Linked DNA regions of Homo sapiens: region 2 is linked to region 1. The links come from fine-mapping of genetic effects on gene expression. A gene starts in region 1. The other region holds a variant in brackets. All regions are shown on one strand. Distances are between the middles of the regions. Region 1 holds the start of KCTD6 (potassium channel tetramerization domain containing 6). Region 2 overlaps FAM3D-AS1 (FAM3D antisense RNA 1).

Region 1 (2,905 bases):
AAATCAGAGGCAATTCTGGGTTTTCAGTGGCACCAAATTCTGGAGATCTGAGTATTGGGTAATTTTGGTATTGTCCTTCTATTAAAAAACAACAAAACCCAGTGGGGTGGGGAGGAGTGGGGGGCAAAAAAAAAAAAAAAGAAAAACCAAACCAAAACTCATTGTATTTTTCTGATTATAAATTCAATATTTATGTGTTCTGATTATAAATTCAATATTCATGAAAATTCAGAAGAACGTTATGAAGTAATGCCATTAACATTCCCATACTGTTATCTTGAACACGATGGTCAATGGTTTGATGTATTTCCTTCAAAATTTTTGTCTGTATATATTTATGTTTTTAAAAATAAAATCAGGATATCATGTGTACTAGTTTGTGTATTGATCATTTTCACACACATTTCCCTGTATTCTCACCTAGTCTTTGTGAATTTGATAATGTAGCACTCAGTTATGTTGATGAAGCATATGTCATTTATTTAACCTATCAATTTGAGCTTTTGGAGACAAATCAAGTATCAGATATAACTGTGATGATCATGCTGATACAATTTCAACCCCAGAGCTAGCTCACACACATGCAGACGTGAAACCCAAGTGAGTTTCTAAGGCCAGTGGTTATTCTGGTGGAGAAGGTTAAACCCAGCATCAGGTAACTGGTCCCACCGGAAGGGGACAGTGGCCTGGCTAGCAGGAAGTGAATGGACTTGGAACGAGTGGACGGATGGAGACCAATTAGCCCTGAGGCGTTAGGTGCTGCCCATCCTCTGCAGCCTTGGCTTCCTTCCTGGTGAAGTGGGGACAATACCAGCGCCAGTCTCATCTAGGGTCGAGCTCCTCCAGGCCCCAGAGCCTTTGCATGGGTCGTTTTGTCTGCTGAAGGTAGCTCTGCCCTTCTCTCCACCTGGCTGCCCGTGTTGCTGAGCTTCTGGGCCCAGCAGCCCTTTGCTGTCTTGCCCGTCAGGCCGGACCAGACCGTCTTGCCCCGGTGGCCCCGGGGGCTTCTTCACAGGCCTCATCGCAGGGTTGTCTCCCCAATGCAGGGCAGGCAGGAGGAGCTCTGGCCGCAGGTCGGGGTCCAGGTCTTCCTCGGCCACTGCGTTTGGAGCAGGGGCTCCCTTCCCTTCTTCTCCATCTAAGTCCTCTAATCATGTCCCTCCCAACACTTACGGCCATAACTTGTCATTATTTTGTCTATTAGCTGTTTCCTTGAGTCTTGTCTGTCTTCTCCTTTGATTAGGACCCGCCTCCGTCTTGGTGGCCGCTGTATCTCCTAAACCCCCAGGCCTGAGATATAGTGGGGGGCCCATACAAGTTCGTGAAATGACTAAGGAGAAACAGCTGTGGAGGCACCACCCCTGAGGACGCAGTGGGCCTGGGGTTGGGCGGACCCCAGGCTGCGGGCGGAGGCGGGACGTAGGGGCGGGGTTTCGGGGCTTCGGAGCGGAGCCTAAGGGGCGGGACTGGGGCTTCGGGGCGGGGCTTCGGGGCTGCGGTCGTGTGGTCTTGACCGCGCGGCTCCGACTGCGCTGGCTGAGTTCCTCAGGCCGCCCGCTCTCTGGCTTCCAGCCCGCGCTGCCGTTAGGGGGCGCCCGCGCTCGTGGCGCCGCGGCTCTGCTGGGAAGGCGCCGCCCGCGCCGGGCAGCTGGAGCCGCAACTCCGGGCGCGGGCTCAGTCGTCCCCTCTGCCGCCGCCGCCGCCGCCGTCGCCGGGCGCGGGCTCGCTTGTCCCCGCGCTCGCGCTCTCCGGCCGCGGGCATCTCCCGGCCCGGCCGCAGCAGCCGCCGCCGCCGCGCAGTGAGTGGGGCTGGCGCGGGGCTTGCGGGGCCGGGGTTTGGGAGGGCCGGGTTTCAGGAGACGTCTGCGCCGAGCGGCCAGGGGAGCGGGGCTGAGGAGGATCTGGGCGGGGGCTCCTGGAACGGGGCGGCGGCGGGGCCGCGTTGAGGGGACCGCGCGTCCCGGGCTGGCACGAGCCAGCAGCGGAGGTGCCCGCGGCGGGGCCTGGGCGGGGGTTCCGGGGCCCGCCCGGCGGGGATGCGCGGTTTCTGCGGGCCCGGGTTCGGAGCCCCGCGGCGCGCCCCTCGTCCGGGCCCGGAGCATCGCCCGCCCTACCCCTGGCCGGGTCGGGTTGCGGGGGCTTCGCTGGCGGGGCAGCAGCGAAGGGCGGCCCGGACGGAGATATTTGGGGTGTGCTCGAAAATGATTGTTTTTGGGAGATGGCGCTTATTAGCCACCAATTGCCCTAGTTTAAAGCTTGAGGCAGGACTCAAAACCCTGCCTTTGGGATTTTCTGCCCTGAAGAGACTCTCAGATCGCAGCTGAGTTCTTTATGCCTAGATTTGTGTGTGTGTGGTGGCGTTTTTAATGCTTGATGTCAGAGGTGATAAATGGCCATGGTAATGGGGAGCCCTGGCAGCACCTGCTGGGCTGACAGTGGTGGAGGCTGTGTCTGGGGGTGGGACGGGGAAATGAAACGTGACAGAGATCCTGTTTGGATATTCTGCCGAAGTTACCATGTTTCTGTTCAAGTATACCAGTTCTAGAACAAGTTGATGGATCCAATTTTAGGACTTTGTGATAGAAGAGGTTTGGGTGGCAAAGTGACCTGGGATGACCCGGCTCGGCTAAGAATATTTGGGGTAGCCTAAGTATCTCTTCTATATCCCCCTGGCATGTTCTTTTTTTCGCTGTCACAAATGCCCTATTACTTGAATCATCCTGGGATAGGAGAGAAGCTTGGGGACAGCATGTAGCACAGTCCTGAGCCCAAGATTGAGATGTTTTCAAATGAACGAATATGTAGCTAGGAAAAGGAAAATGTGTTTGTCAGCAGGGTTGGTAGGTTGAGAGTATTTTCTCTTTGGCCGAAACCATCAGTCCATACTGATACTTGATTTTGTGCT
Region 2 (2,905 bases), 120 kb after region 1:
CCAAAAGAACACTTGACTGTGGCATCTTTCCAGCCTCCTGGTAAGTTTTCTGAGATTGGGCACTATGTCCTGTCCATTTCTATTCCCTCTCTGGTTTTTACACAGCATGGTAGCAAGGGTTGGGGGTCAAATGTCTTGAGCCAGTGTTCCATGAGGCTCCATTTCCTTGGTCCAGGATATGCCACGATGTTTGTAACATGGAGCTAACTTTGCAGTTGCCAACCTAGAGTGGAGTTTTCTCCTGGAGGGTGAGGGTGAGGATGTTGTTGAGGAAAGGGGAGCTGGCTGTGGTGGGAAGAGTGTGGGTGTGGGAGACAGACCCCTAGGTGGCCTCCATGACTCTCACCCCTGTGCTGACCCTTTGGTGTGGTCCTCTACCTCTCCAGAGTAGAGGGTGGGTGGGAGCTATTTTAACAATAGAATATGGCAAAGGTGAGGGTGTGTCACTCCCATGATCATGCTAGATGGATTTGTATATGTGCATGTATGTGTGTATACGTGTGCATGTATGTGTGTATACGTGTGCATGTACATGTGACTCTGTCCTGCTAGCATACACTAACAAGAGATTCTCCTTGCTGGCTCAATGAAGTTAGCAGCTAGGTAAGGTGCCCCCATGGCAAGGAGCTGCGGGCAGCCTCAAGAAACTGGGTGGCCTCTTAGGACCTGAGGGCAGCCTCCAACAAGCAAGCAGCAAACCTCTGGGGCCTTCTGTTCTACAACTGCAAGGAAATAAATTCTGCCAACAGCCTGAATGAGCACGGAAGTGAACTCTTTCTCAGTCGAGCCTCTGAATGAGAACACAGTTCAACTCATGCCTTGACTGCAGCTTGTGAGAGTCTGAGAAGAGGACCAGGTAAGCGGTGCCCAGACTCCTGCCAAGGGAAACTGTGATATGTGTGTGGTTTTCAGCCACTGATTTTGTGGTCACTTGTTACGCAGCAATAGAAAACCAAACCAACAGACTTTGAAGAATGAAAGACTTGGGTGTGATTTCTGCTCTACTTACCAGTTGTGTGACCTTGCATGAGTCACATCACCACACTGAGCTCCAGTTTTCTCATCTACAAATGGGTGCAGACTTGGGAGAATTAGAGATAATAAATAGAAAGCACCTAACATGGGGCCTGGCACAGAGTAGGTGCTCAATAAATAGTAGTTAAGAGTTACCCTGATTTTTAATTTTCGTCATTCATTTTTCTAAATTTTCAATAATGATCATGAATTACCTTGATAAACAGAAAGAACAATTTTGCTTAAAATAAGAAGGAAATGGGCTTGTCTAAGGTCACATAGCTAGTCAGCAGTAGAGCCAAATGAGAGATCCTAAGCCTCCTAGGCCAGATCTTTTCCCAGAACAACTCCTTCCTTATCTATGGAATAACAATAACAGCAACAGCAACAATTACCCTAAGAGCCAGGCAGCTCCCCTGGACCAAACCTGCAAGGTGGTATAGTTATCCCCATTTTACAGATAGAGAAGCTGGGGCCAAAGTCCCACAGCTGGCAAGTGGCAGAGCTGGGATTTGCCTTCTGGAGCTGGAAGAAACCACCTAGTCCACAACATCCAAACTTGGCCTGGATTCTCCTTCCCCAGACCCCCTTGGAGGTGGCATGGGGGACACCTGGGCTTTCTGGAATGAGGCAAAGGCAAGGAAATCAGCAGTGAGACCTCGCCCAGATCCCATTACGCCAGGCAAGATCGCGTTTCCCCTGTTCTGGTGCCATAAGCAGGGCAGAGGAGCGGGCAGGCAGCCACTTTCCTGGTTATTCAAGTAGAAAATTACAGGTGCCCAAAATAGCCTGGGCATTCTTTTATTAATGAATAAGCAGTGAGT[T/C]GGCAGAGCTGGAATGGGGCTTTGCATGCATCTCTTTCCCCTGGACACCTTCCTGAGATCTGCAGGGACTCTTGGCTCTCAGAGGGGACTTTCTCAGGAGTTGGGGGAGCTGGCAGGATTGGGGTGGGAGCATTTTCAGGGCCTGGTCATGGGAAAGGGGACAAGGAGGCCCCATGATGCAGGAGCTGGAAATGGCCCCAGTGCTGAGGGATGGGGTTCCCAGCAGATGCAGGTGAAGAGATGGCAGGTATAGGTCCATCCCAGCCACTCTCTTCTGGCTGTGTGGTCTTGGGCAAATGGCGTAACGTGTCTGGGCCTTCATTTCTTTTTCTGTAAAATGAGGTAAATCATAAATTTACAGAAATGTTTGTTTTCTACTGACTATAAAATTAATTGTAGACAATGTAGGCAATGCTCACTGTAGACAATGTAGAAAGTGGAAAAAAATACAAAAGTGACCATGATATCTCCCCTCCTCACCCCATTGCCCCTTCCTCAATTAAGATAATTAGCATTAATGTTTGGTATTTATTTTTCTAGTCTTCTTCTTATACACATATGAAAAAATGGCTGGTACAGCTTAGTGCCTGAGCTGCTATGCTCTAAAAATGGAACCATCACTTACAGTCAACAAATATTAGTCAGTCAACAAACACTGTGAGCACTGCCCTAGGCCCTAGGGTGGCATGGAGGAAGGTTTCCCCCAACATCTCCTACAGCCGCTTTTTGTTTTTCAAGACCTCTGGCAATGACTTCGCTGAGTCCTCAGAGCCACCTAGGGGGTCGTGGAGGAGGGAAAGTCATTTTTTGGGTTCCTCACATGGATATGGGACCAAAGTCGGGGCCCAGAATCCCCCCATGAGGCCATCTGTGACCTCTTCCTACAGCAGGTCTTGTACACATGGGTTGGCCTAGGCATGGCTTCTTGACCCCTGTCTCCTCCCTAGAGGGTCGGGGCAGGAGGCAGCTGTTCTCTTCTGGGGTTATTTCTTGGCTGGTTAATATGTAAAGTGCTTAGAATGGCACTTGGCATACAGTGTGCAGGAAGTGCACATTACTGACAAGAT

The links.
Region 2: its variant is fine-mapped to the expression of KCTD6 in cerebellum (GTEx, PIP above 0.99).

Annotation. Positions count from the first base shown.
Region 1 is chr3:58,490,371-58,493,275 of GRCh38, forward strand. KCTD6 (potassium channel tetramerization domain containing 6) reads left to right here and starts at 1,726. Exons shown (of 3, transcript NM_001128214.2): 1 at 1,726-1,799. RefSeq lists a silencer at 1,377-2,026.
Region 2 is chr3:58,607,090-58,609,994 of GRCh38, forward strand. It overlaps FAM3D-AS1 (FAM3D antisense RNA 1), which reads left to right. Exons shown (of 4, transcript NR_134853.1): 1 at 1-40; 2 at 593-856. It also overlaps a transcript of FAM107A not described here. Among named protein-coding and RNA genes, the nearest start is that of FAM3D-AS1, 1.5 kb to the left of the region's middle. The variant T/C (reference allele first, on the strand shown) is at 1,839.